7 linked regions of the Homo sapiens genome follow. The gene in region 3 interacts genetically with the main gene of each other region. Each region holds a gene or a part of one and is shown on either strand. Other genes may lie near its edges.

Evidence for each region.
Region 1: changes in CSK (region 3) and MSH4 are lethal when combined (synthetic lethality), as found in Homo sapiens cells (one large-scale study listed by BioGRID).
Region 2: changes in CSK (region 3) and GBF1 together harm fitness more than expected from each alone (negative genetic interaction), as found in Homo sapiens cells (one study listed by BioGRID).
Region 4: changes in CSK (region 3) and HADHB are lethal when combined (synthetic lethality), as found in Homo sapiens cells (one large-scale study listed by BioGRID).
Region 5: changes in CSK (region 3) and NUDT13 are lethal when combined (synthetic lethality), as found in Homo sapiens cells (one large-scale study listed by BioGRID).
Region 6: changes in CSK (region 3) and GNPNAT1 are lethal when combined (synthetic lethality), as found in Homo sapiens cells (one large-scale study listed by BioGRID).
Region 7: changes in CSK (region 3) and FBXW12 are lethal when combined (synthetic lethality), as found in Homo sapiens cells (one large-scale study listed by BioGRID).

Annotation. Positions count from the first base shown.
Region 1 is NC_000001.11:75,876,132-75,880,749, reverse strand, and holds part of MSH4 (mutS protein homolog 4), read right to left. Parts: intron 3,815-4,618; coding exon 3,750-3,814; intron 2,602-3,749; coding exon 2,432-2,601; intron 1,759-2,431; coding exon 1,622-1,758; intron 701-1,621; coding exon 597-700; intron 1-596. UniProt on the Homo sapiens protein: Involved in meiotic recombination. Required for reciprocal recombination and proper segregation of homologous chromosomes at meiosis.
Region 2 is NC_000010.11:102,248,520-102,252,417, forward strand, and holds part of GBF1 (Golgi-specific brefeldin A-resistance guanine nucleotide exchange factor 1), read left to right. Parts: intron 1-3,898. UniProt on the Homo sapiens protein: Guanine-nucleotide exchange factor (GEF) for members of the Arf family of small GTPases involved in trafficking in the early secretory pathway; its GEF activity initiates the coating of nascent vesicles via the localized generation of activated ARFs through replacement of GDP with GTP.
Region 3 is NC_000015.10:74,798,878-74,802,304, forward strand, and holds part of CSK (tyrosine-protein kinase CSK), read left to right. Parts: coding exon 1-61; intron 62-394; coding exon 395-614; intron 615-1,534; coding exon 1,535-1,628; intron 1,629-1,803; coding exon 1,804-1,869; intron 1,870-1,945; coding exon 1,946-2,045; intron 2,046-2,134; coding exon 2,135-2,225; intron 2,226-2,644; coding exon 2,645-2,718; intron 2,719-2,817; coding exon 2,818-3,013; intron 3,014-3,119; coding exon 3,120-3,206; intron 3,207-3,427. UniProt on the Homo sapiens protein: Non-receptor tyrosine-protein kinase that plays an important role in the regulation of cell growth, differentiation, migration and immune response.
Region 4 is NC_000002.12:26,286,437-26,291,054, forward strand, and holds the end of HADHB (trifunctional enzyme subunit beta, mitochondrial isoform 1 precursor), read left to right. Parts: intron 1-3,481; coding exon 3,482-3,517; 3' UTR 3,518-4,029; downstream 4,030-4,618. UniProt on the Homo sapiens protein: Mitochondrial trifunctional enzyme catalyzes the last three of the four reactions of the mitochondrial beta-oxidation pathway.
Region 5 is NC_000010.11:73,116,294-73,120,911, reverse strand, and holds part of NUDT13 (NAD(P)H pyrophosphatase NUDT13, mitochondrial), read right to left. Parts: intron 1,741-4,618; exon of another isoform or gene 1,724-1,740; intron 1,462-1,723; exon of another isoform or gene 1,390-1,461; intron 895-1,389; coding exon 755-894; intron 1-754. UniProt on the Homo sapiens protein: NAD(P)H pyrophosphatase that hydrolyzes NADH into NMNH and AMP, and NADPH into NMNH and 2',5'-ADP. Has a marked preference for the reduced pyridine nucleotides.
Region 6 is NC_000014.9:52,778,151-52,782,725, forward strand, and holds part of GNPNAT1 (glucosamine 6-phosphate N-acetyltransferase), read right to left. Parts: intron 3,762-4,575; coding exon 3,634-3,761; intron 2,591-3,633; coding exon 2,529-2,590; intron 309-2,528; coding exon 161-308; 3' UTR 1-160.
Region 7 is NC_000003.12:48,370,345-48,375,603, reverse strand, and holds the start of FBXW12 (F-box/WD repeat-containing protein 12), read right to left. Parts: upstream 3,386-5,259; 5' UTR 3,317-3,385; coding exon of another isoform or gene 3,284-3,316; intron 2,948-3,283; exon of another isoform or gene 2,921-2,947; 5' UTR 2,837-2,920; coding exon 2,747-2,836; intron 2,297-2,746; coding exon 2,259-2,296; intron 2,057-2,258; coding exon 1,899-2,056; intron 251-1,898; coding exon 132-250; intron 1-131. UniProt on the Homo sapiens protein: Substrate-recognition component of the SCF (SKP1-CUL1-F-box protein)-type E3 ubiquitin ligase complex. Promotes degradation of interleukin-22 receptor subunit IL22RA1 in resting and IL22-stimulated conditions by facilitating its ubiquitination.

The sequences.
Region 1 (4,618 bases), on a different chromosome or scaffold from region 3:
TTAAGTTTTTATAAGGCAGAGTTATACTGTGATATAGTGCAAAAAGTTTTTCTCTTGCAAAGATAAATATGTACCCAAAACTTACTATATATTAAAATGTTGGTGGTACATGCCTTGAAATTGTCTTGAAAGCCCAACCTTTCTCTTTATTACTTCAGCCTAATAAGTGTTCTAAATCTTCTACTTCTTCTTTCTGGCTGTATTGCTACTATTTCATGACCAGCAAAAGAACTGACACTATTGTGATATTGCTATTGAATTATTAATATCAAGGTATAAGAAGCTGAGGACTTACAGACCATAGGAAAATAATAAACTGAACGAAGCCCAGGTAAGCCCCTGATGTGCCAAGTTCTACATCATGGTAGAATGCACATTACAGAAATATCAATTATAAAAGTATTTGTTTGCAATTAGATCTTCCCCGAAGCTTCTGTGAGGCTCAGTGATTCTAATCACAAAGACAGACTTCCTTTGCTAACATGCATAATTCTACAATTGTCTGTAATTAGATAAAAATTAAACTAATACAATTGTAACAGTTTCTCAAATTAAACCAATTTAATTCAATATTCAAATACTTCAAATGCTCTTACATATAAGTCATGTGATAGATTTCTCTCAAAGATTCTTGGCATCTTTCATTCATTTTAATTAAATCTGCTGATGTAAAGCTGTAAGAATTTTTCACTTTAGAAATCTGCTTGGAGATTAAAAAACAAATGTCAAGATAAATGCACACTACTATGAAATGTAAGATTTTAAACAACAGAAATATGGGTATTTAGGTTAATCATTTTACTCTTTGAGATATGGTATCACAAAGAAAGTTCTAAATAATATTTGTGAAATGTAAGAGGTAGATCACTTCAAAGGATAAAGCCAAATTTTTTAACCCATACATTCATTTTTAAAAAGCAGGATATTTTGACCTAGTTCATCTGGGATGACTACTCTGATAGGTCTTAAAATGTTAAAAACACTACATCTTATTACCAAGTAACACGCATGATGGACATCAGTGATCCTCACTCCATCTCTGACCCCTGTCGCAGCCCTTGTCCTATATCTGAACCTCAACTCAATCTCTAATCGTACTCAAGCTCTAAAAGCCTGAAAGCTAAATGGTTTGTTCTTATCAAAAAGTACCCCCTAAGCAGATAGAACAAAGATTAGAGTGGGTTAGACTTTCCCAAACTGGTATATTGTAAAGGAGCTATATAGGAAAAATTATTCCTGTGGTACAAAGGTTTGGAAATATTAGATTTTTAAAAGTTAAGTAGATTTATTTACTTCAGGACTTTTTAAACCTTTAACAGGCAAATGGTGTGGTATTTTCCTAATTTCTTTTATCATAAACAGCTTTTGGATGTTCTTTCTTCATTTTCCTTTTTTTCTTACACCAAGCTCCCAGAACTGTGGAAAACACTGAGTTTGGTATTTCTGCAAAAGCATCTAAATCACTCTTAGATTAGTACATTAGTTAGGTGGGTGGGTAGGAATAGGAGAAGATACAGAACATTCAGAAATTTGGCTTGCAAAACTCAAGAAGTCCCAAAAATATGTAGATGTAATTCTATAAAATCAGAAACACTAATTTCCTAACCACTCTAAAATGAACCTTAATAAATTCTGAAGGAAGTTGATCACTAGGTAGGGCTATACAATCTGTAGTCATCTGGATGAAAAATCCTCGAGCAGAGCTAAAACTTGTCCTTAAAGGTAGACTATATTTTTCTCCAAGTTGTGATATCATTCCTGGTGACCAGAAACAAGAAAAACAAAAACAAAACAAAATGAATAAATTTTAATGAGAAAAATCACTCTGTTTTAAAGAGTCACATGGTTTTTAAATTCTTATTTTATACATAAATAGGAGGTCTTGTTGCTCTTTCAAACTCTAATAATTTTTTTTTTTTTTCAAGACAGATCTCACTCTGTCGCCCAGGCTGAGCACAGTGGCACAATCATAACTTACTGCAGTCTCGACCTCCTGGGCTCAAGTGATCCAAGTGATCCTCCTACCTCAGCCTCCGGAGTAGCTGGGACTACAGGCATACATCACCATGCCTGGCAAATTTTCTCAGTTTTTGTAGAGACAACGTCTTGTCTCTACAAAAGACTAGCTATGTTGCCAAGGCTAGCCTCAAACTCCTGGACTCAAGCTATCAGCCCTCCTTGGCCTCCCAAAGTGCTGGGATTATAGGCATGAGCTATTGCACTTGGCAATGGAAGGTTTTCAAAAGGAGTTTAGTATGAAGGCTGCCACATATGCTGTTTCCTTAAATGGCACTACATGCTAACCTTATGTTTTGGTAACGAAAAATAAATTTAAAATATGTATGGCTAGTCATCAGCAGCAAAAAAGGACAGCATGTCCTGAAAAGGCTGTTTTATCCCTACAAAAAACATTATCAAATAAAGAAATTACCTGCTATGTCATCTACAATCTCTGTGTATGTTCTTCTTGCTATGTCAAGAAATTCATTTATGTTAGACCTCACTGCATAGCACTTCTGAGTCCTCATGTTTAGGCATCCTTTCATGTATCTTGCATCATCATTAATTACTGTTTTAATCTTTTCAAGTATGATTCCAAACCTAATATTAAGGCCAAAAGAAAAACATTATAGGCAATAAGTCAAAGAGTTATTTTAATTTATAATTTGAATCACAATTGATGATAGCAAATTTTTGTTGAAAGTTATTTTGAAATAACTAATTAAGCAACAAATATTTAAATTTACTTAAGTTAGAGCTGTGACTATTTCATATTTAAACTGTTTCATCAGTCAGGACTAGTCTAAAACAGCATCAGGACCCCAAAAACAATTCTACATCTGCTAATAGAGCTCACAAATTACATATACTGATGTGCCTGTGGGTACAAAATACATCTCTAAAGAACTGTCATAAAAATTGTGGCTTCATGCTCATTCACTCAATAAACATCAATGTACACCATGTATCAAGCACTGTGCTAGGTGAAGAGATTCAGAGAAGAATAACATATGATCCCTGCCTTCGGTAGAGGCAAGAGACACTAAACACATATGTAGACAGCGTAACAGGAACCTCACAATTACCAGTGGTAAAGTTCAGTGATTATGCAAACCAGAAATCTGGTAACACATATTTTCCTCAACTTTTCCTTCATTCCATTCTATATTTTATTTGTAATTAAGCCAGTTTTATTATTAACTTCAATGTGTGGCCTCACACGGGATAAATCTTCAATTAATAGAATAATAGTTCTTAAGTATCACAAATCTTTTCAGTTCAGAACCAAGGTCTGGATTGAACCAGTAGTTCTTCAGTCCACAACTACTGCTAATAATTTAATACTGTTAAAATTAAACAGCATTTAGATTGTATTCAATATTTATATCTACTATTTTTTGTTACATTAGACCCTTCATGATTTAACAAAATAAAGAAATATATTTTTATTATTTGCAAGTCTTTCCATGGAGAATGGCTTTAAAAGGAAATATTAAAATTGTGCTTGGATTTCAAGTTTTCATGCTATTCTAATTGTCCTTTAACACAAATAATCAATGTGTTGTTACCCTATTTATTCTACTTATAATGTGAAATGTACAATTAGAATTTTGATGAATAGGTTAAAGATTCTGTTAACCAAAACTCAAGTAATTGTTCCATAGAATACAATTAGAGTCTTTAAAATCAGTTATGATCAGGAAGAAGAGAATAATCTTATTTTTTATTAACGGTTGAGTGACAAAGACCTCTTGTCTTCCAAGGAACCATAGTAAGCTCTTAATAAAGGTGTGTTACAGTTCTTCATAGCAATCTATTAAAGAATAAAATAAAAAAGTTAAGGATAATCAATTACAAGATCATTCAAACATATCATTTTACAGTTGTTTAATACTTTATAGTTTACCAAGTGCTTTCTTCATTTCCTCATTTATATACTCATAAAATATATTTGTAGCTATCTAGCTGAGGATAGACTGTATCTTTCCCTTTTTCCAAATAAAGAGTACATGGCTAATTAGTGCCATCCACTGCTTATTATAAATTTTATTTTTCTTGCCTCTCTACTAATTGTTAACACCCGACAACTTACATATATAGGTACTTAAACAACTACTGTTGTACATTTAGAGTACTCTACATATAATTCCAAAATTTAGGTTAGATATACATTAGACCAAAAAAGTGCTTTGTATATTCATAAATAGAGCAATTTCTCAATTCTTATATAGTAAAAATAGGGATTTTATTTTGCTTAATGAAAACTATGAGGGGGTCACTAACTAAATAAACAGAAAAGAAGAAGAGAAAGCATATTTAGCCTGGCCATTATCTCCTTTTTTAAATTTGATATGAAGCAATGGTGATAACTTTTTTTGCTTATGAACAGAAAATAATATGCACAGACAGATAAAAACTAAAAAATTCACCAAAATTGAAAGAAAAAAATTAAATCTACTATTGTCCAAAGATAAACATTCTAAATATTATATTTCCTGTCAGTATCTAAAATAAATAATTTTATATCATTGTGTGCTCCTTCCCCAACCCCGACTTAATCCAGGTTGAGTATTTCTTACCCAAAATGCTTGGGATCAGAAGTTCCAGATTCTGGATT
Region 2 (3,898 bases), on a different chromosome or scaffold from region 3:
TAAATGCCAGGCAGGTAATGTAAATGAGTTAATTGAGTCCCATGGGAATGTATTAGGATTAGTGGGGACTGTTGTGTACTGGACAACCCATGCCTTTATTTTTTTTTTGTCTTTAATTTTAATTTCTTTTTATTGAGACAGGGTCTTGCTCTGTCACCCCGGCTGGAGTGCAGAGGAACGATCACAGCTCACTGCAGCCTTGACCTCTGGGCTCAAGTGATCTTCCTACCTCAGCCTCCCAAGTAGCGGGGAACACAGATGTGCGCCATCATGCCCAGCTAATTTTTTAATATTTTGTAGAGACAAGGTCTCACTGTATTGCTCAGGCTGGTTTCGAACTCCTAGACTCAAGCAGTCCTCCCACTTTTGCCTCCCAAAGTGCTGGGATTTTAGGAATGAACCACCATGCTCAACCCATTCCTTTATTTAGAAGAGCCAACTGCTCCTTTTTCAGCAGATTGTTACTGTTTTAGAGTGCAGGCACAGAATGACCACTCTTTCTATTTTTCAGGAGAAACTGGAAATTTAGATCATTGTGTTTTCTAATTGTTGGAAACTAGTTAAAAGTATTTTTAAGCCTTTTTCAGGCCAAAGAAAATATGTCTGTGGACTGGATTCTGCCCAATGGTTACTGGATGATGACCCTCAATAAACAAAATGGGCAGGCCTTATGAGACTTAATCACTGCAGTTCTCTATACATAATCACATAGACTTTTTTTCTTTGTCCTACTCTGCCAGCTGTCACCTTTGTACCTTGGGTGCCCTGAGTGGCTAAAAGATGGAGTGAGATAGAGAAGGTTTGTTTTATTTTTCATCTCCAAGCTGGCAGAAGGGACAGCTTTGGACATATTAGTAGCTTACCTTGTAAACGGTTTTTGAGATACTCTCAGAATCTCCACAGGGGGAGGAGATGGCATGCTAGAGCTGAGGTACCCTGGTCACCCGATTATCAGGTCTGGGAGGATTTTCCAGTGATGCATTGTCAGGGCACCAGCTTTTTTCCCAGTTTAACCTTCTTTTACTTCCACCCTTTAAGTAAATTTCTTGAGCTCAGTAAGTTGTTTCCTAGTTTAGTAACTTTGGTTATTCTCAATAAAGCACAGAACTATGATGTGTTCCTAGGCCAGCTCTGGAAATGTTAAAAGCTCTGCATCTTTAGTGTTTCTCTGGCTTTTTTTTTTTTTTTCTCTGATGGAGTCTTGCTCTGTTGCCCAGGCTGGAGTGCAGTGGTGTGATCTTGGCTCACTGCAACCTCCGCCTCCTGGGTTCAAGCAATTCTCCTGCCTTAGCCTCCCAAGTAGCTGGGACTACAGGTGCACGCCACCACACCCAGCTAATTTTTGTATTTTTAATAGAGATGTGGTTTCACCATATTGGCCAGGCTGGTCTTGAACTCTTGACTTCGTGATCCGCCCACCTCGGCCTCCCAAAGTGCTGGGATTATAGGTGTGAGCCAATGCGCCCAGCCTTCTCTGGCTTTTAAAGGTATTGAGTGAACATAAACCTTAGAAGGGCCTATTGCTGGTCCTTTAGCTCCCTACTACCATCTACCTTTTCAGAAAGTCCATCAGTTTTTCTTGGTTTGCCCAGCTCTGTATTAGACACAAAGGCATCATGAAAAAGAAAAACAAAATTGCGCTTTTGCCTTTGGAGAATTTATTTGCTAGTTGGATAAGAATAATTTTTTTTTGAGACAGAGTCTCTCTCTGCCACCCAAGCTGGAATGCAGTGGTGTGAGATCTCGGCTCACTGCAACCTTTGCCTCTCAGGCTGAAGTGATCCTCCCATCTCAGCCTCCTGAGTAGCTGGGACTATAGGTGCGTGCCACCACGCCTGCCTGATTTTTGTGTTTTTTGTAGACACAGGATTTTACTATGTTGCCCAGAGTCCAGTGGTGTCATCATAGCCCATTGCAGCCTTGATTTTTTTTGGCTCAACTGATCCTCCTACCTTAGGCTCCCTAGTGGCTGGAACTACAGGCATGTATCACTATGTCCCACTAATTTTTTTTTTTTTTTTTTTAATTTATGTTGCCTAGGCTGGTCTCTGACTCCTGAGCTCAACCATTCCTCCTGCTTTGGCCTCCTAAAGTGCTGGGATTAAAGATGAGAGCTACTGCACCTGGCCAAGGAAATGTTTAAAAGTGATTAAGAGGCCGGGCGTGGTAGCTCATGCCTGTAATGCCAGCACTTTGGGAAGTCAAGGGAGGCAGATCACCTGAGGTCAGGAGTTAAAGGCCAGCCTGGCCAACATGGTGAAACGCTGTCTCTACTAAAAATATAAAAATTAGCTAGGCGTGGTTGTGGGCGCCTGTAATCCCAGCTACTCGGGAGGCTGAGGCAGGAGAATCACTTGAACCCTGGAGGTGGAGGTTGCAGTGAGCCGAGATTGCGCCACTGCACTCCAGCCTAGACGACAAGAGCGAAACTCTGTCTCAAAACAAACAACCAAACAAACACAAAACCAAACCCCATAAAAGTGATTAAGAAAAAAAAAAAAACCACTTAAACACTAGTGTACTAAAAACAGCTATTTAGAGCCAAAGAAAATAAGGCATATATGAAGAATTGACAGTTACATTAAAAATTATATATTTCACAAAAATGTGAATGTGCAAATAACACTTAAGGAGATGTCAGGAAGATAGACGTGAAAAAAGAAGCATTATGATATGGCTGGTAGGTAAATGTGGGTTCTTTTTACCTGTATGGAAGGTTTGTAACTTCTGGTAGAGAAGCAAATATATATTATCAAAAAAAGGTTTGCCAGTGTGGCTCAGAGTTATTGTCTTCTATGAAGTCATTTTTCTCATGAGGTGGATGTGTGCTGTACCACTCTTGAAGAGTCAGTCTTGATGTTATTTCATTTGTTCATCTAGTATTTATTGATCATTTTTCTTACTATGTGTCAGGCTTTGGAGATAAAAGGGTAAATAAATCATGGTCTTTCCCCCTGAGATAGAGCCTGATAGTCCCATGGTGGTGATACACTAAATAAATAATTATAAATTAGTATAAGATGTGTTTATTTTTATTTTCATTTATTTATTTGAGGCAGAGTCTCACTCTGTCACCCAGGCTGGAGTACAGTGGCACGATCATACCGCAAGGCAACCTGGAACTCCTGGGCTCAAGTGATCCTCCTGCCTTAGCCTCCCAAGTAGCTGGGACAACAGGTGTGCGCCACCACACCTGGCCAATTTTTCTTTATGTTTTGTAGAGACAGGGTCTCGCCATGTTGCCTAAGCTGGTCTTGAACTTCTAGGCTCAACTGATGCTCCCTCCTTGGCCTCCCAAAGTGCTGGGATCACAGACATCAGCCACTGTCCCCAGCCAAGATATGTTTAGAGATAACTACAAAGTGCTGTGGGTGGCCGGGCATGGTAGTTCATGCCTATAATCCCAGCACTTTGAGAGGCCGAGGCAGGCAGATCACTTGAGGTCAGGAGTTTGAGACCAGGAGTTTGAGACCAGCCTGGCCAACATGGTGAAACCCCAACTCTACTAAAAATACTCTGCTAAAAAAGTGGAAAAAAGGGCTGGGCGCAGTGGCTCACACCTGTAATCCCAGCACTTTGGGAGGCCGAGGTGGGCAGATCACCTGAGGCCGGGAGTTTGAGACCAGCCTGACCAACACGGAGAAACCTCATCTCTACTAAAAATACAAAATTGGCCCGGCATGGTGGCGCATGAATGTAATCCCAGCTGCTGGGAGGTTGAGGCAGGAGAATCGCTTAAACCTGGGAGGCAGAGGTTACGGTGAGCCGAGATTGTGCCATTGCACTCCAGCCTGGGCAACAAGGGGGAAACGCTGTCTCAAAAAAAAAAAAAAAGTGGAAAAATAAATAAATAAATAAATAAGTGGTTTTAAGATTGTTCTTAGAACCACTGTGATAT
Region 3 (3,427 bases):
CAGCCAACTACGTCCAGAAGCGGGAGGGCGTGAAGGCGGGTACCAAACTCAGCCTCATGCCGTGAGTACCACGAGGAGGGGTTGGGGAGGGAAGGGGCCTTGGTCCTCCTGAAGGAGCATCAGGAGCAAGCAGGGAGGCCAGAGTGAGGGGCTTGGGTGTTGGGGAGGGCCTCAGGAGGAGGTGCAGGGTGCGGGTGCGGGACCTCACAGAGCAGGGCTGGGGGCAGAGGCAGGAGGGTGGCAAAGAAGGGACAGGGAGCAGAAGAAGAGGGCCTCAAATGCCTGACTGAGCGAGTGCGAGCCACGGGTGCCAAGCAGAGGGAACCCCTTCAGAAAGGGGAGCCAGGGTCAGTACCTTTGGGCCACCATGACCTCCAGCCCTGCTGCTCCCCAGTTGGTTCCACGGCAAGATCACACGGGAGCAGGCTGAGCGGCTTCTGTACCCGCCGGAGACAGGCCTGTTCCTGGTGCGGGAGAGCACCAACTACCCCGGAGACTACACGCTGTGCGTGAGCTGCGACGGCAAGGTGGAGCACTACCGCATCATGTACCATGCCAGCAAGCTCAGCATCGACGAGGAGGTGTACTTTGAGAACCTCATGCAGCTGGTGGAGGTGAGCTGGGGGGTACAGAGCCTTGCTCCCACCCTCACACACCCTAAACCCATCTGGGGCCCTGGCTTCTAGCTCCAGCCCCACTGCTTCTGCGTGGTGACCAGCCATGTGGGGCAACTTCTGTGAGCCCTTGTTTCCTCACACCTTGGTGGAGCAGCTGCTGCGTGCCAGGACTCACCTCTGACCCCACAGTGCCACCATGAGGAGGGGAGCCTTATCCTCATTTTATAGACCAGGAGTTGAAGGTTCAGAGCAGTTAGGGGACCCACCTGAGGTCCCACAGATATAATTTGGTGCCAGGACTAGAATCTGAGTCTGTCTGATCCCAGAGCTAACTTTCCTCCAGCCACTCACAGACCTGCATGCTCAGAAGCGTGTGCAGAAACATGAGCCATGCGCCTTGATCGCCAGGGCCCCTGAGGCTCTCGCACCTGCACGGACATGCCCACAGGTCCCTGCAGCTTCCCAGGCCAGCTCTGCCAGCCCTGGCCAGGCCACACCTGGCATCCGGTAGCCACAGGAAGCCTCCCGTGTCCCTCTGTATTCACTCTTATCTCCCTCCCCTACTGGCCTGGCTTGGCCTGTGGCAGGTGAGGGTGGGGTCCTGGGCACTCCTGGCTAGAGGCTGGTTTCAGGACTGAGCCATGGGTTGCCCTCTGCATCAGATACCCATGGGGCCCAGAGTGGTAGCAGCAGCTGAGTGTCCAGCAACCGCATGTAGGGTGGCATGGGAAATGGGCCATACGTCATAATCTGGGACTTCCCTAACCCCTGCCCTACCAGAAATGGGGAGCCCTCCCCACTCAGTGACTCCAGGCTAGGCGGGGCTGGCCTCTGCCGCCCTCTGGTGGTCAGGCCTGGACGGTGCATATGGGGCACCTTGGGCTGTCTCTGAGCACCCTGCCCCCCACACCCTGCAGCACTACACCTCAGACGCAGATGGACTCTGTACGCGCCTCATTAAACCAAAGGTCATGGAGGGCACAGTGGCGGCCCAGGATGAGTTCTACCGCAGTGAGTGCACCCCACCCCAGACCTCTTGCCCACCCACCTCCTCCCACGCAGGCTTCCTGGCACTGCCCCATCCAGGAACCTCCAGAGAACCCCAGTGCCTGATAGTCCAGTCAGCCTCTGTCATCCCAGCCATGTCCCTAGTGGCCTCCAGGCCCTCACTGGCCCCTCCCCACAGGCGGCTGGGCCCTGAACATGAAGGAGCTGAAGCTGCTGCAGACCATCGGGAAGGGGGAGTTCGGAGGTGAGCTGGGCCGGGCCCCCTGGGGGGGTTCTGAGGGACTCCGAACTTGGGAACAAGACCACCTCTCTGCCCCCAGACGTGATGCTGGGCGATTACCGAGGGAACAAAGTCGCCGTCAAGTGCATTAAGAACGACGCCACTGCCCAGGCCTTCCTGGCTGAAGCCTCAGTCATGACGTGAGTGGGGGCGGGGTAGGGGGGAGGTTGGCCTAGGTTAGGAGTGAGGCACCAGCTTCCCCTTTCTGACCACTCTCGTCCTGCCCCAGGCAACTGCGGCATAGCAACCTGGTGCAGCTCCTGGGCGTGATCGTGGAGGAGAAGGGCGGGCTCTACATCGTCACTGAGTACATGGCCAAGGTGGGCACCTGCCGAGACCCGGCACTCAGGCCTTCCAACTGCCCCGAAACCCCCACTGTGCTCTAGGGCCCCTGCTCCCTCAGTCCCCCGACCCCAAGTGAGCTTTTAGGTCACCAGGGCTGGGCTTTTGTCCTGGTTTACCATTCATTGACTGTAACATTGGACAAATCATGTCACCTCCAAGCCTCAGCATCACATCTGGGAAATGGAGATAATAACAACTTAGAGATTTGTGAGAGTCAAGGGATAAGGCATGAATAACACAGAGCAGTGTCCGGCATGGATGTTCTGGCCCCTCCCCACTCCTTCCCTGTCTCACACCTCCCTGGAGTGTCAACACCCACCCGGCCCCAGCGTGCTGTGTGAGAGGGCTGCAGGGCACGTCTGACCTCGGCCTGGTCTGTCCTTCCTGCCCCCAGGGGAGCCTTGTGGACTACCTGCGGTCTAGGGGTCGGTCAGTGCTGGGCGGAGACTGTCTCCTCAAGTTCTCGCTGTGAGTGAAGCAGCCTCTTGGATGGGTAGGGTTTGAGGGGTACCCTGCCCTGCTATGGGAGCCCCAGTCTGAGGGGACATGTGGCTGGCCTACCCCCAGAGATGTCTGCGAGGCCATGGAATACCTGGAGGGCAACAATTTCGTGCATCGAGACCTGGCTGCCCGCAATGTGCTGGTGTCTGAGGACAACGTGGCCAAGGTCAGCGACTTTGGTCTCACCAAGGAGGCGTCCAGCACCCAGGACACGGGCAAGCTGCCAGTCAAGTGGACAGCCCCTGAGGCCCTGAGAGAGAAGGTGGGGCTGGCCTCCCCTGGGGCCTACAGAGGTGGGCAGGAGTCCTGGGTCACTCCCCACCCTGGAGTCCCAGGATCTGACGCTGCTTCTTCCATCCACATGGCAGAAATTCTCCACTAAGTCTGACGTGTGGAGTTTCGGAATCCTTCTCTGGGAAATCTACTCCTTTGGGCGAGTGCCTTATCCAAGAATTGTGAGTATGGGTACTGGGATCAGGGTGGCTCTTGGAGCACCGGAGGGGTTGGCAGGGGCGTGAGCCTCCTTGGGCCCTGCCTCCCCAATCAAGGCCTAGAAGCCTCAGGCCTGCCCTGGGGAGCTCACAGGCCACTCTCCGGGCCTGGGTCTGCGGCAAAGCTGATGGGCATCCCTGAGAGGCTGCTGGGTAGGTGTCCTCTCTGAGGCCAGGGCCTGGAC
Region 4 (4,618 bases), on a different chromosome or scaffold from region 3:
AACTTCCTGACTGCTGTAGCATCTCACTCTAGGAATAAAATCCAAAAGGAAGATTGTAGTTTGTTTTTTGTTTGTTTGTTTTTTGAGACAGAGTCTCACTCTGTCCCCCAGGCTGGAGTGCAGTGGTGCCACCTCGGCTCACTGCAACCTCTGCCTCGCGAGTTCAAGCGATTCTCCTGTCTCAGCCTCCTGAGTAGCTGGGATTACAGGTGCTCACCACCAAGCCCGGGCAATTTTTTTTGTATTTTTAGTAGAGACGGGGTTTCACCGTATTGGCCAGGCCGGTCTCGAACTCCTGACCTCAGGTGATCCGCCTACCTCAGCCTCCCAAAGTGCTGGGATTACAGGCATGAGCCACTGTGCCTGGCCTGTTTTTGTTTTTTTTTTTTTTTTTTAATCCCGATGTGAACAGATTTTCTCTTCCTCTAGATTACAGAAACTTCCTGTTCCTGATCAAAATGAATAAATATTTAAAAGCATAAACTGGCCGGGTGCAGTGGCTCACGCCTGTAATCCCAACACTTTGGGAGGTTGAGGCGGGTAGGTCACTTGAGGTCAGGAGTTCGAGACCAGCCTGGCCAACATGGTGAAACCTTGTCTCTACTAAAATTATAAAAACTAGCCTAGTGTGGTGGTGTGCGCCTGTAATTCCAGCTACTCAGGAGGCTGAGGCAGGGGAATCGCTTGAACCCGGGAGGTGGAGGTTGCAGTGAGCCGAGATGGCGCCATTGCACTCCAGCCTGGTGACAGAGAGAGACTCTGTCTCAAAAATAAAGTAAATGAAATAAATCTTACGTTTAAAAGCCCTTTTTCATGGATTTTCCTCAGAGACTTTGCAGAAACCAAGGGGTCAGTTATTTATCAGTTGGAACATTTTGGACTTTATGATCACAAATGCTTTTTAATCTGTGTAACTTCATCTACAGAAAACCATGGTCCATTAAGACTAGAGCGATCCCTCTATCTCTTCATGCCAGGCTTCTACCAGGGAGATAACCTGTACACATTACTCACGAGCATAGTGCGTAATCCACATAGGGTAATGTCTGCAGATTTGAGTATGTGTTCCCTAATTCTTTATCTAGCATGTAGAGTATAAATAACACAATACTGGATGCTTTTATGGATGAACAAGGAATAATACCTAGCACCTTTCTTCTAGAAGTTTATAGTATGAAGAGAGAAGATAAGATGCATCTGAGAAACTAGATTAAACTTGACATTGTTTGATCAAGAGCCACGTGAGCAATACCAACATGGTTGGAGACAGAGGAGAAATCCATCGTGGTGAATCTAGAGCAGGGTTTCTCAACTTTGGCACTAACATTTTGGGCCAAACAATTCTTTGTTTTGGGGGGCTGTGTGTTGTAGGGTGTTTAGCATGGCCTCTACCCATCGGATAGCAGTAGCAACAAGCTCCTCCCCACCTCTGCCCCAGGTACACACGGTTGGTATAACCAAAAGTATCTCCAGGTGTTGCCAAATCTGATCTAGAGCAAGAAAAAACATGGAACATGAAAACAGTGTGTTTAAAATAAAGCCAGAGAGGGCTGGGTGCGGTAGCTTATGCCTGTGATCGCAGCATTTTGGGAGGCTAAGGCAGCTGGGTGGCTTGAACGCAGGAATTCGAGACTAGCCTGGGCAACATGGCAAAACCTCGTCTCTACCAAAAATACAAAAATTAGCCAGGTATGATGGTACGCACCTGTGGTCCCAGTTACTCAGGAGGGAGGTGAGAGGATTGCTTGAGCCCGGGATGTTGAGGCTGTAGTGCGCTGTATTCACGCCACTGCACTTTAGCCTAGGTGACAGAGTTGCCTTGTCTCAAAAAGCAAATAAAGAAATTAAAATAAATAAAAAATAAAATAAGCAAGCCAGAGAGGAGTAGTCTACCTTATTATGAATTCTTTCAGGACAACCCCCAAGTCAGTCAAACCTTCCTATCCCTGCTCTTTTTTTGTCTGCTTGTGCCTTTTCAATGTACTTAACATGCCAGGTGTGGTAGCTCATGCCTGTAATCCTAGCACTTTGGGAGGCTGAGGTGGGCAGATTGCTTGAGCTCAGGAGTTCGAGACCATCCTGGACAACATGGCAAAACCCCATCTCTACTAAAAATACAAAAACTAGCTGGGCGTGGTGGTGGGTGCCTGTAGTCCCAGCTACTCGGGAGGCTGAGGTGGAAGTATCACCTGAGCCCGGGAGGTTGAGGCTGCAGTGAGCCGTGTTCAGGCCACTGCACTCCAGCCTGGGTGACAGAGGGAGGCCCTGTTTCAAAAAAAACAGAAAAACCAAGTACTTAACAGTTTGTTTTGAACTCCAGTGTATACTTGATTGAGGACAAAGACCATGTGGCAAATCTTTAAACCTGCAGTGTTCAACTTGGCACTTTGTAAATAATAGTTTCTTTTATTTACTTTTTTGTTTTTTAGAGGGTGTCTAAAAATTCTATGCTAGGATTTAGACTCATCTAAACTAAGGACATAGCTAGTACATAGCACTGTGCATAGTGCTGGATAAAAGATATTCTACTTCTGGCCGGGCACAGTGGCTCATGCCTGTAATCCAGCACTTTGGGAGGCCGAGGCAGGCAGATCACGAGGTCAGGATATCGAGACCATCCTGGCTAACACGGTGAAACCCCATCTCTACTAAAAATACAAAAAATTAGCCGGACGTGGTGGCGGGCGCCTGTAGTCCCAGCTACTCGGGAGGCTGAGGCAGGAGAATGGCGTGAACCCGGGAGGCGGAGCTTGCAGTGAGCTGAGATCGCGTCACTGTACTCCAGCCTGGGCAACGGCGAGGCACGGTCTCCAAAATAATAAATAAAAAAAATAAAAAAAGAAAGATATTCTACTTCTTCCCTTTGTGGTCCCTCAGATCATTATCTTAACCTGTGTAGAATAGTGAAGAAGGGACAAGCCCAGCCTTTGGAATCATCTAGACCTGGTTTCAAATCCTGGCCCTGTTACCTTAATAGCTTTGTGATTTGGGTGAGTCACTTAACCTTTCAGAGCCTCAGTTTTCCCCTCTAGAAACTTACTTTTATTGGTATTTGCTGTATCATGTTTATGTTTATACAGTTAAAAAAGCCCCTGGATTTCTCATTTTAACAGCATCCATTTGTAGAGCATCACTAGGAATTAGATTCTGTACTAGACAGAGCCTGATGCATATATGTATACATGTATATATGAATGTATATAAATATATATGTGTGTGTATATATATACACACATATACAAATATACTGTATGTTATGTGATGCCCACAAAAACTCTATGAAGTAGACACTATGAGCCCCATTTTGTAGAGGAAATTCCAGTTTAGACTGACTACAAACTTTCCCAAGATCACAGTGATTGATTGGCAGAGCCAGGATCCCACTCCAAAGCCTGTACTTTTCTCCTTGTTCTCTGCTGTCCCTGTACTAGGTGGATTCATCACCATTCATTGCTCTAATTGGACTTTGTTTTCTTTACAGGGCCATGCTATGATAGTGGAAGCTTATCCAAAATAATAGATCCAGAAGAAGTGACCTGAAGTTTCTGTGCAACACTCACACTAGGCAATGCCATTTCAATGCATTACTAAATGACATTTGTAGTTCCTAGCTCCTCTTAGGAAAACAGTTCTTGTGGCCTTCTATTAAATAGTTTGCACTTAAGCCTTGCCAGTGTTCTGAGCTTTTCAATAATCAGTTTACTGCTCTTTCAGGGATTTCTAAGCCACCAGAATCTCACATGAGATGTGTGGGTGGTTGTTTTTGGTCTCTGTTGTCACTAAAGACTAAATGAGGGTTTGCAGTTGGGAAAGAGGTCAACTGAGATTTGGAAATCATCTTTGTAATATTTGCAAATTATACTTGTTCTTATCTGTGTCCTAAAGATGTGTTCTCTATAAAATACAAACCAACGTGCCTAATTAATTATGGAAAAATAATTCAGAATCTAAACACCACTGAAAACTTATAAAAAATGTTTAGATACATAAATATGGTGGTCAGCGTTAATAAAGTGGAGAAATATTGGAGAACTGTTTACCTCATTTTTTATTCATCAGGGGAGGGTGGTTCTCTTGGCTTAGGACCAGATTTTTGCCTTTAATTACTCATTTATAACTTCTAACTATTGTGGTCAATGCTGAGGCTGCTGGGAAGATAAAGACAATCCTGTTTATTTATTTATTATTATTATTTTTTTTTTGAGATGGAGTCTCACTCTGTTGCCCAGGCTGGAGTGCAGTGGCACAATCTCGGCTCACTGCAACCTCTGCCTCCCCGGTTCAAGCGATTCTTCTACTTCAGCCTGCCGAGTAGCTGGGATTACAGGCACCCACCACCACACTTGGTTAATTTTTGTAGTTTTAGTAGAGATAGTGTTTTGCCATGTTGGCCAGGCTGGTCTCAAACTCCTGACTTCAGGTGATCCACCTGCCTCGGCCTCCCAAAGTGCTGGGATTACAGGTGTGAGCCACTGCGCCCAGCCTGACAGTCCTGTTTTAGAATAACACATTTTGTTTTCCCCACTGCTGAACTGCAGAATGTTTATTTCACTGTTTGGAGATGCTTCTGTTAGCTAGGATTTAAATAAAGTGTAAAGAAGTTTTTTATTTTGATCAA
Region 5 (4,618 bases), on a different chromosome or scaffold from region 3:
CACTGGGGTGCAGTGCCGTGATCTCGGCTCACTGCAAGCTCCGCCTCCCGGGTTGACGCCATTCTCCTACCTCAGCCTCCCGAGTAGCTGGGACTACAGGCACCCGCCACCACGCCCGGCTAATTTTTTTGTATTTTTAGTAGAGACGGGTTTCACCGTGTTAGCCAGGTTGGTCTTGATCTCTTGACCTCGTGATCTGCCCTCCTCGGCCTCCCAAAGTGCTGGGATTACAGGCGTGAGCCACCGCGCCTGGCCATGATGGAACTCTGAATTAGCATAACTGTGTACCTCTGTGGAGGCTGGAATTCACTGCTCTAAGGCAAAGAATGGCAAACTTTTTCTGGAAAGAGATACTAAATATTTTAGGCTTTGTGAGTCATACAGTCTCTGTCACAACTCTGCATTGTAGTGCAAAAGTAGCCATAGACAATATGTCAATGAATGAGTACGTCTATGTTCCAATAAAAATTAATTTACAAAACAGGTAGCAGATACAATTTGGACAGCAGTTTTACCAACCCCTGGTTTAAGGCATTAGTGGTTCATTTCATCACCAAATAATATTTGACTGGACAACTAGAGTTCATACAATAAATTATTAGTTGGCAGAAGCAGTTATACAAGCATGAGACTCAAAAGCTTTCTGAAAAATCTAGACTCCAAAGTTCAAGGATCTTTCTTAGAATTCATTATGGGCTGAATTCTGCGTAGTGGCCACAGGCTGGTCAACGCCACTGGTCCACTCTGGACTTACCTAACAGGCTGTGCCGGGGGGCCAGGTATTGATGTGCTGAAGTCTGAAGCAGAGGAGCCAGACTATGAAAGAGGTAAAACGCTCCTGTTTGCTGGGCTTTTTTACATGCATCATCATCTTCCTTCAGTTCAAATAAATACCTGTATTTGGGAAATAATCAAACCATTACAAAACCACCCTTAGTTACCTGTATAGCATTCATCTTTGAGAATGCTGTCGCTGCATCCCTCTCTTACCATGGTTATTTCCCTTTATTTATTTACAACCTAATTTGCTCCAAAAAGGGTTTGAGGTGGCTATAGATAATCATTCATTCCCTCCTTTGTCTTACTGTGTACCTCACCCATACTTCTGTGGTTGCACTATTGGTTTATTTGTTCATTTGTCTGTCTCCTCTGAGAGACTATGATCTCCTTAAGGGGAAGGTATGCTTTACTCAGCTCTGTATCTCTGTAGTTAGCATATTGAATGGCTCGATTCAATAAATATTTATTGAATTGAACTTCAAGGGTAATAAATATTTACTGAATTGAACTTCAAGTTACTCTGCCAATATTACACTGTGAGGCAAGAATTTACATGCAGTGGAGTGAAAGGAAAACAAGTACAGTGATAAAACATCAACCACAAAATACCTAGAGATGGGAACAGACTTTTTCACAGCAGACAAAGAGTAAACACTGTATCTTCAGTGACCCTCATTCAATCTAGGGAAGATAAAGAACAAATTTTACCTTCAATGTACCCTTACTTCAGACATCTAGATCCCAAAGTAGATACCATTAACTCCTTATCTCTAGCAAAGGGAGCACCTGGCCGGGCGTGGTAGCTCACGCCTGTAATCCCAGCACTTTGGGAGGCTGAGGCAGGTGGATCACGAGGTCAGGAGTTCGAGACCAGCCTGGCCAATATGGTGAAACCCTGTCTCTACTAAAAATACAAAAATTAGCTGGGCATGGTGGCACGCACCTGTAGTCCCAGCTACTCAGGAGGCTGAGGCCGAAGAATCGCTTGAACCTGGGAGGCGAAGGTTGCAGTAAGCAGAGATCACGCCACTGCACTCCAGCCTGGATGACAGAGCGAGACTCCATCTCAAAAAAAAAGAAAACAAAGGGAGCATTGATGAAACCTATACTTAACCTATTTAATAAGGATAGTATTTTCATTTTCCTTCTTTTTTTGTTTTGAGACAGAGTCTCACTCTGTCACCCAGGCTGGAGTGCAGTGGCACGATCTCAGCTGACTGCAGCTTCTGCCTCCCAGGTTCAGGCAATTCTCGTGCCTCAGCCTCCCGAGTACCTGGGATTACAGGCATGCCCCACCATGCCCAGCTAATTTCTGTATTTTAGTAGAGACGGGGTTTCATCATGTTGGCCAGGCTGGTTTCGAACTCCTGACCTCAAGTGATCTGCCCTCGGCCTCCCAAAGTGCTGGGATTACAGGTGTGTGCCACCACACCCAGCCATAGTATTTTCAGTAGCCAAAATGAAAATGTGGAAAAAGGGAACATCCTCCTATTCTTGGTTTCTCAAAAACAGGCAATAGTAATGGGGTAAGTACCAGGCTTTTCCAGTACCTTCATTAAGGGTGGGCTGAGTCTCTCCCTTCAAATCCTTGTGATCAGCAGGGACAGAATGCAGACTCCCCTGGGGCCTTGGGATTAGCCATTTTTGCCTGTCAAAAGCCCTAAAACAGACGCTCAGGTAAAAACTGGCTTCTTTTGTCAAGTGGGAAAAATAGTTTGCAGATATTTCCTGTGGGATCTGAGAACTCATGTAATACCAGTAGGCAGAGTTTGCTCAACATGAAAATAAAAAGCAAAAAGACAAATGCACCCCAGTGCTATCTTTCAGAACCTACTCTTGACTGTGATAAAAGGGGTTACGATGAGCTCTTTATAAATAGAAGACAAAAGAAACCTGATCTTTTAAGAATTGTGATATTTTTAAACTTATGAGTCACTGTAGCCTCCTGGGGCAAAGACTCAATGCATGTCAAAGGAGAGACGTGTCACTCAGAAGTTACCAAATATAAACAATAGAACAAACACTGCTGCCTTCGTAAAAGAACAGAAAGAGTGGTACAACCTGTACTTGCCCTAATGACCCTAAAAAGCAAAACACCTACAAAAACACCCAGGTTAAGGTCTTAGACCCAGGGCCTCACTGGAACTGGAATTGAGATCCAAAAGTTCCTTACACTCCTCTGGATTGGGAACTCTTATTTTTAAAAATGTATTTTCCCTTTTCAGTTATAATAGCATAGAAATTGCTATGATTATCAAAGTTGAAAATATTTAGATTATTTTAAAACAAACTTTTTCCTTATTTTAACAGTAAAAAATAGTCAATCTTTAATAATCAGAATATACAATTGTCAATTTTTTGAAAAGAAAATCATCAAAATCCCACCACTCAGGGATAATCACTGTTTACACTTTGGAATTCTCTAAGCGATTACTATTATACATCAATACATATATAAGTATATTTAGAATCCATCAAACCTACTAATTTGTAGCCTTTTTTCTTAAACATATGTAAACATTTTCACATCATATTCTTTATTGATAGACTTTTATTCTTTTTTTTTTTTTTTTTGAGACTGAGTTTCACTCTTGTTTTCCAGGCTGGAGTGCAGTGGCACGATCTTGGCTCACTGTAACCTCTGCCTCCCGGGTCCAAGTGATTCTCTTGCCTCAGCCTCCCAAGTAGCTGGGATTACAGGTGCCCGCCACCACACCTGGCTAATTTTTGTATTTTTAATAGAGATGGGGTTTTGCCATGTTGGCCAGGCTGGTCTCGAACTCCTGACCTCAGGTGATCCACCCGTCTCAGCCTCCCAAAGTGCTGGGATTACAGGTGTGAGCTACCGTGCCTGACCTCATTATTTTTATTCATTCTTAAATAGATTTATTTAATCACTTTAACATACTTAAATTTTAGACTCTATTTAATAATTATGTTAATATTCTTGGCCAGGCGTGGTGGCGTACTCCTGTAATCCCAGCACTTTGGGAGGTCGAGGTGGGTGGATCACAAGGTCAAGAGATCCAGACCATCCTGGCCAACATGGTGAAACCCCATATCAACTAAAAATACAAAAATTAGCTGGGCGTGGTGGCGTGTGCCTTAGTCCCAGCTACTCAGGAGGCTGAGGCAGGAGAATCACTTGAACCCATGAGGTGGAGGTTGCAGTGAGCTGAGATCACACCACTGCAGTCCAGCCTGGCAACAGAGCAAGACTCCATCTCAAAAAAAAAAAAAAAAAAAAAAAAAAAATTCTTGTAGTCTGTTAAAGGAGTACACGCAATCTAAATGTCCAACAATATCTGAAACAAGTATCACAATTTTGTTGTTTGTTCACTCTTGTTCATGTAGGATTATATGCTTATGTGCTTCTAATTTTTTTTCTTTGAGACAGGGTCTCACTCTATCATGCAGGCTAGAGTGCAATGACACGATCTCGGCTTATTGCAACTTCCACCTCCCAGGTTCAAGCGACTCTCCCACCTCAGCCTCCTGAGTAGCTGTGACTACAGGTGCACGCCACCATTCCTGGCTAATTTTTGTATTTTTAGTAGAGACGGCTTCACCATGCCGGCCAAGCTGGTCTCGAACTCCTGACCTCGAGTGATCTGCCCGCCTTGGCTTCCCAAAGTGCTGGGATTACAGGCATGAGCCACTGCACCCAGCCTTTATATGCCTCTAAATTTTGGAGCTTGATAGGGCTTTATATATTGGAATCACTGGTTGTGAGTGTGTACTTCCTAAGGAGTTTTATATTTGTATTCACATGGTGCCCCAGGGGTATTTTCAGTCCAAGATTACTACTTAAATTCATTTCTTAGGCTGGGCATGGTGG
Region 6 (4,575 bases), on a different chromosome or scaffold from region 3:
CCAAAGTAATCTTCTAAATGTCATTATACTTGTAGTATTACAATGTTTTTTCAGTCCAGTATTTATGGAGGTCACTCGGCTGCAGCAACAAAATATTTCAACTCTAGGAAGAGTGTAGCCTTGTAGCATTAGCCCCTTTGACAATTTTCTTACAAGATTTTTACTTTAGAAACCTCCGACACATGTAGTTTTCTTCAGATACAGTATATCCAAACTTTTTATAGAAACCAACATTTTGTGGTAGACATTCAAGGGTAATCTTGTAACAGTTCAGTTTCTTGCTTAGCAAAGTAAGGGTTGATAATAACCTGAAATTTAAAAAGGGGGTAGGGTGAGGAGATAGCATTTATTAATAAAAATTGATTCTAGTAACAATATGAATTAATGTTATAAAACTTAAGTTTCCTTAGAAACAGGTTTAGATTATGGCTTTTCCCACTGCATTCATGTAAGTTGATAAGCATTTAAATCACCAAAGCATTTTTACTTAGAGTCAAATATACTTTTATCTAGTAATCTCCAGCTCACTAATAAACAGGACAAATACAAAACTCACCCTAAGCCCTCTTTAAAAATGAAATTTAAGGCTAGGTGCAGTGACTCATACCTGTAATCCTAGCACTCTGGGAAGCCGAGGCAGGCGATCGCTAGAGCCCAGGGGTTTGACACCAGCCTGGGAAACACGGCAAAACCCCATCTCTACAAAATATAAAAATTAGTAGGGCATGATGGCACATGCCTAAAGTCGCAGCTACTCCAGAGGCTGAGGGGGGAAGATCACCTGAGCCCAGAGAGGTCAAGGCTGCGGTGAGTAGTGATTGTGCCACTGCACTCCAGCCTGGGCAACAGAGTGAGTCTCTGTCTTGAAAAAGAAAAACGAATTTTAAGATGCATGTTAACACTAAAAACTCAACCTTTAAAAAAAAAAATGACCAAAATTATTTTGTAAAAATTCTTTATTTAAATCTATTTAAACAACTTCGGAGCAGTCGACATACCCACATAAAATGAGTACATAATAGCTTTGCTCTTTAATCATTTTTAAAGCTACTTTAATATTTGTGAAGGTGTGTATCAGATTAACTCAAGATTGGTCTAATTAATATGAAGTGGAAACAAAGCAAGTCTACATCTATACAAAATTTCTTAATGAATCCAAACCCAGTATTAAAGTGTGGATCTAAGTGCCTTAGAGGATAAAAACTATAAAAGATATACAAACTTGAAGGGTCTGCCCATGTTTGAACAGACTAAAAAATCCTATTTTTAAAAAAAACAAAAGACCTTGACTGAAGTATGCCTGGCTGGTTGCAGTGGCTCATGCCTGTAATTCCAGCACTTTAGGAGGCCAAGGATCACTTGAGTCCAGAAGTTCGAGACTAGCCAAAGCAACATAGCAAAACCCTATCTCTATAAAAAATTAGCTGGGTGCAGCGGCATGCACCTGTAGTCCCAGCTACTTGGGAGGCTGAGGCGAGAGGCTCACTTGAGCCCCAGAAATTCAAGGCTGCAGTGAGCTGTGATCGTACCACTGTATACTCCAGCCTGGGCAACAGAAAGAGATCCCATCTCTTAAAAAAAAAAAAAAAAAAAAAAAAAACATAAATTATATAGACTAGAACACAAGAAATCGGTCTGTTTTGTTCACTGAGGTATTCCAAATACCTAGAATAGCATCTGGTACATAAGCAGGTATTTAATATTTGTTAATTCCTTAAAACTCAGAAGAGTTAGTGTTAAAAAGCAAGTTCTTGGGCCAGGCACAGTGGCTCCCACCTGTAATCCCAGCACTTTGGGAGGCCAAGGCAGGAGCACTGTTTGAGACCAGCCTGAGCAACATGATGAGGCCCCATCTCTACAAATTTTTAAAAATTAGCCAGGTGTGGCGTGTACCTGTAGTCCCAGCTAATTGGGGGGCTGAAGAGGATTGCTTGAGCCCAGGAGGCTGAGGCTGCAGTGAGCTGAGATTGAGCCACTGCACCTCAGCCTGGGTGACAGAGCTGTCAAAAACAGACCCTGTCTCAAAAACTAAAAATTATAATAAATAAGAACTACAAGTTCTTATAAAATGGCAATAAATCAATACCACTTATTTATATTTATTTTAAATGATTTAGATATATACAGTGAAGGCTGTTTCAGTATGTATTTCTACAACTTATGAGAATGAGAGATCACAGAATATTCTGTAATAGTTGAACATTTCCTTTGTTTTTAAATATGACAGAGAAGCTGAGGCAAATCCGATTAGCCCAAAAGTTTATCTCCTACTAGGACGAGAGCATTACTATAAAAAGTTAGTAATTTAAAGATGTTACTGTCTGTAAAGAAGTATGCTTCCAATTTTCAAACTTTAAGGCAAAATATGTATAATAATACTTTATTTCTTCATGAAATTCAGTCTAAACTATTAGAGTGAGAATAAGTTCAGAATTAATGAAGCCAAAAAGAACTTCAAACAAGTATCTTGTTAAGAAACTAAATTGGAACAAAATTTATCCAGGGTTACCTTGTTTCTGCCTACTTACAATTTGCCAAGCTGCTTTCCTCTGCATTCATCACTAACAACAACATCTTCTACTCTTCCTCTCTGAAAATATTTACAATGTTTAAAGGAGTAAGCATTTACTTTTGTTTTTAGCTAAAACGAGTTGGTAAGAATTTACTGATAATAAGTAGTATATTTTGTAAACTTGAACTTAACAGAAATCAAATGCAAAAAATATTATACAGTGAAGGCTGTTTCAGTATGTATTTCTACAACTTATGAGAAGGAGAGATCATAGAATATTCTGTAATAGCTGAACATTTCCTTTGTTTTTAAATATGACAGAGAAGCTGGGGCAAATCTGATTAGCCCAAAAGTTTGTTTCCTACTAGTATGAGAGTACTACTATTAAAAGTTAATAATTTAAAGATGTTTTTACTTATTAGAGGAAATAGTATGAGTCAAGTTGTGACCTAAACTTGTTTTGGCTATGTCCCCAACCTTCCCACCCCATTGTCTTTAAACAAATATCAGGATCAACATCACCAAAATGTAACCTTTTCATGAATATATCCATCATTCTACTCCTTGCTTACTAGCAAGTTATTTTAGATATCCAAATAAAATTAATGTCTAGTACAGAAACCCCACCGAAATTCCTAAGTGTGACAGAACACATCCCAAGTGTTCCTACCTTATTCTCATTGAATTAAGGTTTTCTCTCCCTCTTTTTTTATTTACTATTTTATGTGAGTTATTGAGGGATGAAAGGGCACTACATGCATTAGATGTATCATAATTAGAACGGAATAATCTGAACCCTTTACCATGTGGAAACAAATTTATGCTAACGTGGTATATTCAGAGTTGTTTTTTTTAAAAGAGTAACATTAGGGATTTTGTGCATTACTGCTAAGTTGTTTGGTTTCTCTATGCCTATACCAAATTGATCCACCTTACAGAACAATTTTAGCATACAATTCATACTGTTATACATTTTCTTTCTTAAAGCTCTCAGAACACACTGGGAAAAGGGATTTCTAAGAGGCACTGAAAATCAATGAGAAAACAGATTTGTCTAATGGAAACTCAAAGTCAGTTGTGCTAGAAAACAGCTGTCCATTTTATTTATAAGCAGCACATACCTTAGCACAGGAATGGATGAATTTATGTTCTATAATCAGAGTTGCCGTAGCAACAATCTGTCCTAGAGTCACATCTTCTACAACTGTAACATAATAATCCCCAGATTTCTTCATATGCTCAAAAGATTCTGTGGAAATTGGATAACAAAGTGTTACATAGTAGACATTCAATTTTATGGGGAGCCAGAAAAATATTAGGATTAGCTGACTTAATTACTAAATGTTTAAAGCTGTTTTACCATAGTAATTTACCTTCCATTTCTAAAGAAAATATTACCAAGTAGTTGAAATATCAGCAATTAGTATCAATTGGAATATAACCTACACATTCAAAATATCTGCTAGCAAAATAAAGACTAATATAGCTATTTTAGATGAACAACACTTAAAATACAAGTAAATGGCTGATGTTGCCACTTCCATGACTAATGAAAACTTCAATTTCTTCATTTACTTTAAATAGATCTCTTTAACTTTTATACTCAATAGATATTCAAATATAACCTTTGCACATTTTAACAAGAGCATGTTTACATGGCTCAATTCTAGAATTTTTAGTCTTTTGCTTTCAAAATATTTTTACAAAATATATTTTAATTTTCCCTTTGTGATGGAAAGTGTTTTGTGATAACATGACTTGCTCTTGTTTGCTTTGAGAGCACCTTGCAAGGAAGTAAAAACATATCTGTTTCCAAGTAACTTTTCCAAGTCACATAGCAAATAGGTGCAAAGATACTTCCCCTCAAATGGATTTTCAGTACTATTGCTGAAATAACATGGTTTCTCATCTAATTCATGTGCATGCAAAGAAAAATTCAGGAATAAAAATTGAGGCTAATAGTCTCTCATATTGTTAATTTCTATGGTCTCATTCCAGATAGAGATCTAAAATGGGAAAAAGAAATTCAGTGAATGAAAATAAACAATGAGAATCAGAATGAT
Region 7 (5,259 bases), on a different chromosome or scaffold from region 3:
TAGAAAACCTGATTTGACACTTTGTTTTTGTTACCACTTCCGAATATTTTCCTCTCAGCACTTCCGTTTCATATATAGAACAGGATGGATGCAAATATGCAGTACTTTTGCCACATATTGGCCAGACTCACCTCTTGCACATCCCAGGCACAAAGCTCTTGCTTTGGAGATACACTACAAATGATTGATTTCTCCTGTTCATCCACTGTAAGTCTATTTCCTGAGAGATAAGCCAACTCCGTCTCAAATGCTAGAAGGAAACATAGAAGACTTGGCCACCAGATAGTTAAGGGATGATCCAAACCAAAAGAAGATAATTTAAAATATTTCTGTACCCTCTTAGGAAGGTTTGGGTAACAATATGGAGAAGATAGAAATTGGGCTCCAGAGTCATCCAAACACAGGTTCCCACGGCAGACTGGCCATTTGGGAGATGTTGGCCAACTTGCTTTTCCTTTTTATCCTCAGTTTCCATAGATATAAAAGGCATATTAAAATCTCTCCATCAGAGAACTTTTCTGAGTTTTAAAAGAGTTATCAAGTCCAGGCACAGTGGTTCACGCCTGTAATCCCAGCACTTTGGGAAGCTGAGGTAGGTGGATCACTTGAGGCCAGGAGTTCTAGACCGGCCTGGCCAACATGCTAAACCTGTCTCTACTAAAAATACAAAAATTAGCATGTTGGCAGGTGCCTGTAATCCCAACTACTTGGGAGGCTGAGGCATGAGAATTGCTTGAACCCAGGAGGCGGAGGTTGCAGTAAGCCAAGATCATGCTGCTGCACTCCAGCCTCGGAGACAAAATGAGACTCTGTTTTTAAAAAAAAAAAAAAAAAAAAAAGTGTTATCAGGATTAGGCCAGGTACAGTGGCTCACGCCTGTGAGGCCGAGGTGGGAGGATCGCTTGAGTTCAGGAGTTCAAGACCAGCCTGGGTAACAAAGTGAGACCTAATCTCTACAAAAAAATTTAAAAAATATGGTCGGGTATGGTGGCTTATGCCCGGAATCCCAGCAATTTGGGAGGCCAAGGCAGGTGGATCACTTGAGGTCAGGAGTTCAAGACCAGCCTGGCTAATATGGTGAAACCCCATCTGTACTAAAAACACAAAAATTAGTTGGGCATGGTGGTAAATGCCTGTAATCCCAGCTACTCAGGGGGCTAAGGCAGGAGAATCACTCGAACCCAGGAGACAGAGGCTGCAGTGAGCCGAGATCGTGCCATTGCACTCCAGCCTAGATGACAGAGCAAGACTCAACCTCAAAAAAAAAAAAAAAATCAACTGGTTGTGGTGGTGTACCCCTGTAGTCCCAGTTACACAGGAGGCTGAGGCAGGAAGATCTCTTGAGCCCAGGAGGTTGAGGCTGCAGCTGTAGAGCCTATGTATGCATTTATTTAGAGACAGGGTCTGGCCCTGTCACCCAGGCTAATTTTTTAAATTTTTTCATAGAGATGGAGGGGGGGTCTCACTTTGTTGGCCAGGCTGGTCTTGAACTCGTGGGCTCAAGTGATCTGCCCACCTCGGCCTTTCAAAGTTCTGGGATTACAGGCATGAGCCACTGTGCCCAGCCAAGCCTCTGTTTTTTAGAGTTTCCCATTAATTTTTTTTTTCTGATTTTTATTCTGGGAGGGATGAGAAGCCTTAGGAAAAAGGGAGTAACAGGACCTGATTTTATGTTGTGAAAAAAAATCACTCTAGTTTCTTCATTCAGCACAGATGGTGGGGACAAGAGAGGAAGCAGGGAGATATCACATGGCTATCACGGCAACCCAGTCTGGTTCAATTTTAATTCCTTTTCCCTTTACTGAATGAGAATACACAACTGCACACAGCAAAAATCAAATAGAGTGGACCTCTGAAAACAAGCTGCTCATGTTCCTCTAGGGCACCTATACCCATACCGATGTTCTTAGTTACTTTGTAGATAAAGTTATGCGGCTGTGCCAATGCCAACCGAAGCTCCTTCCTTCTTTGATGCAGGAAAAATTGCTTCCATGTGTGTGTGCCCAGGTGTTGATTGGTGAAGTTGCTGCAGTCCCATCTCTGCAGAGATAGTGACCTGGAAACAGAGTCACAGTCCCATCAGGCTGTTCTCAGTCAGTTCACCTCCTCAGAGCCCCGGTTATATCACAACCCCCTACTCACACTAACTTTCCTGTGTATATCTCACAACACAGCCACACAGGCCTTGGGACACAGCATGGGTGCGCAGTCAGATGATCTCCTCTCCCCTTCCCTCCTTGCCCTTTCCCTTCCCTTACCTCCACAGGTAATCACTGTCTGCAATCCTATTCCAATGCTATGGGAGAGAAAGGAAGAGACAAGCAGGCAATCAGTTACATCAGAGAGCAAGGGTAATCCTCTGCTATTATTTGTTCTGGGAGCTGGGCCCGCACAGGTTAATCAGATGGGATTCCAGCTCTCAAAGCACTCTCAGTGTGGGGAGATAAGGAAATGGTAACAACAGAGACCTATCACTGCTAATACAGGCACTGGGTATTCCCATGAATTCACAGGAAGAAGTGTTGATTTCCTAGGGCTTGAAATGGGAGCCTCAAGGACTGTTTAGTCAGCACAACTCCTGGATATCAGCTTGTCCTTTTCGTTTAACAGAATATGAGGCCCTCAGTATGAAGAATGCTAACCCCCAAAGCCTCAGTGTAACCCTCTGCTATTCTGCAAAGTGGTGCTCAAACTGGTCGAGAGAAGCAGCGGGCTTGGGGGGCAGTGGGAGGTGGAAGGCCTTTACCTTGTTCACCTGGGAAACCTGCAGCAAGCCGAACAGGTCCAGGAAAGAGAAGATTCGCTTCAAAGCTAAGTCAGGCAATCGGATCTCCATTTCATGCGGCCTGAACCCACATCCACTTTCCTTTCTCCTCTCCGGGCTGCTCTGAATTTATAGGCTTTGCCAAAGTCTGCAGCACTTGTAAAGATTTTCACCCATGCCCATCTGTGTGCGGTAGAAACAAGCTGCAGGTGTGCAGACTCCCGGGCTGACCTCCACCCCGGCCTCTCCCCTGGGGCCTGATCCACACAGCTGGCAGGCATCCCTACCTAAACCCACTTGTTAGTGCTGTTCATTGTTTAGAGGAGCTCAGCAACACCTGTGCGCTGTGAGCTGGAGGTGCAGAACCTGGGGCAGCCCCAGTTGCAGATGAAGTTGTCAGAACCCTTTAGGAAATGTCACCGAGTGCACTCACTTTGATCAGATCTGAGTGTCTCTATGACTCTATTTAAGTTCCAAACTCCTGGAATTGGAGTCTGCTTGCCCTGTGTCTGTGCCTACCTTGGGATCTTGAATCTGGTGAGTGGGGCTCATCTCTCAGCGCCAGCATGGCCTCTGGGTTTCTACCTTCTCGCATTTAACTTTGCAGTGGAGGAGAAAGAACGTGCCAAGCTGGCTTCTCCACAGAGGTCCGCCCAAAGGGAGCAGGCCTTGTCTGGGATGGCTCTCCCAGCTGGTGGCTTTCCCTGGGATGTGACGCTTTCCCACAGTTACAGATCTCCCAAGAACCTGACAACTCATTCTGGGATTTTCTAAAGACCGTGTCATAGCCTGGGTGTTTGTGTCCTCTCAAAATTCCTACGTTGAAATTCTAACCCTTGGTGTGATTGGAGGTGGGGGGCCTTTGGGAGGTAAGTGGGTCACAGGCAGAGTCCTTATGATGGGACCAGTGACCTTATAAAAGAGACCCCAGAACGCTCTCTAGCCCTGTTCATATCATGCGAGGACATGAGAAGGTGTCAGCTGCAACCTGGAAGAAGGCCCACACCAGAACCTGACCGTGCTGACAGGTGACTCTTGGACTTCTCTCCTCCAAAATTGTGAGAAATAAATTTGTTTGTAAGCCACCCAGTCTATGGTACTTTGCTGCAGCATAAGACAGGGGTCCCTCTGTGAGGCTCAGTGGCCAACCCTTCTTAAAACTGCTGCCTCCAGGCAGACACACGGGAGTGGTTGTCGGGAGTCCCATTTATGATACAGTAGTAAGAGAGAGGAAAAATACAAATTGACATGGTGAGGAAATAAAAAGGAAAAGCAAAGACCAAGAAGCACCTAGAGGGGCGTGGGGAAAGGCGAGTCAAGGGGTGTGTGGAGAGGAGTGAGAAAAATACAAGGGTAAAAGATTTGTATTCCATAAATAGGAAATAATGCAGAGAGAGCCAGAGCCGTGGAAGGACACAGGAAGACAGAAAGCTTGGAACGGACTCTATTGTAGAGGAACAGAATTAATGCAAAGATATAGAAGGCTGAGAAATAAAACACTTTAAAATATGACAAGGGAAGAGAAGAAACAGTAAAATAAAGGATATTTTAAAAGTATTAAAGCACAAATATTATAAAATACACAGATAGGAAATATAACTGTAAGTGGACTGAGACAGAGTAGGAATAAAATGGAAAAGAGGACAGATGAGAAAGAGGCAAACATAAGGAAACTGAAGCAAATTGCCGAATGAGTGAATGAATGAATTTGAAATAGAGGAACAGAGGCCAGGCACAGTGGCTCATGCCCGTAATCCCAGCACTTGGGGAGGCCGAGGCGGGTGGATCACCAGGTCAGGAGTTTGAGACCAGCTTGGCCAACATAGTGAAACCCTGTCTCTACTAAAAATACAACAAATTAGCTGGGCGTGGTGGCGGGTGCCTGTAATCCCAGCTACTTGGGAGGCTGAGGCAGGAGAATTGCTTGAAGCTGGGAGGTGGAGGTTGCAGTGAGCTGAGATTGCGCTACTGCACTCCAGCCTGGGCGACAGTGCGAGACTCCATCTCAACAACAACAACAAAAAAAATAGAGGAACAGGAAGGTGTGTTGGGGGGTGGTGGTGGCGGGGTGCTACCAGAAAAGCGGCAGAGAAAGACACATTGCAACAATAGATGAAGACAAATCTAAATGTCACAAGAGTTAAGAGATGTAAAATTTGAGAGATGTGAAATGGTAACTGCGTAATAGTCTAAGCAAAAGATAAGATGCAGGTGAGAGAATGGTCCGGACATTGTCTAGGAGAAAGTAGATTAAAGCAGGCAGCTGGGGAAACCTGAGAAGAGGGATCCATAAGGAGTTGGGCAGCCTGAGAGTAGGACAGAGAGGGAGGGACGACACAGCATGGGAAGTAAAGGGGGCGTAGCAAGGGGAGAAGTAACAGCACACCTTTCATGGCGCCTTCTGCAGGCAAGGCACCCGTCTAAACAATTTACAGGGGCTCATCTATTTAATCCTCACAACGGCTAGATGAGGTAAGTCCTATTACTGGCCACCT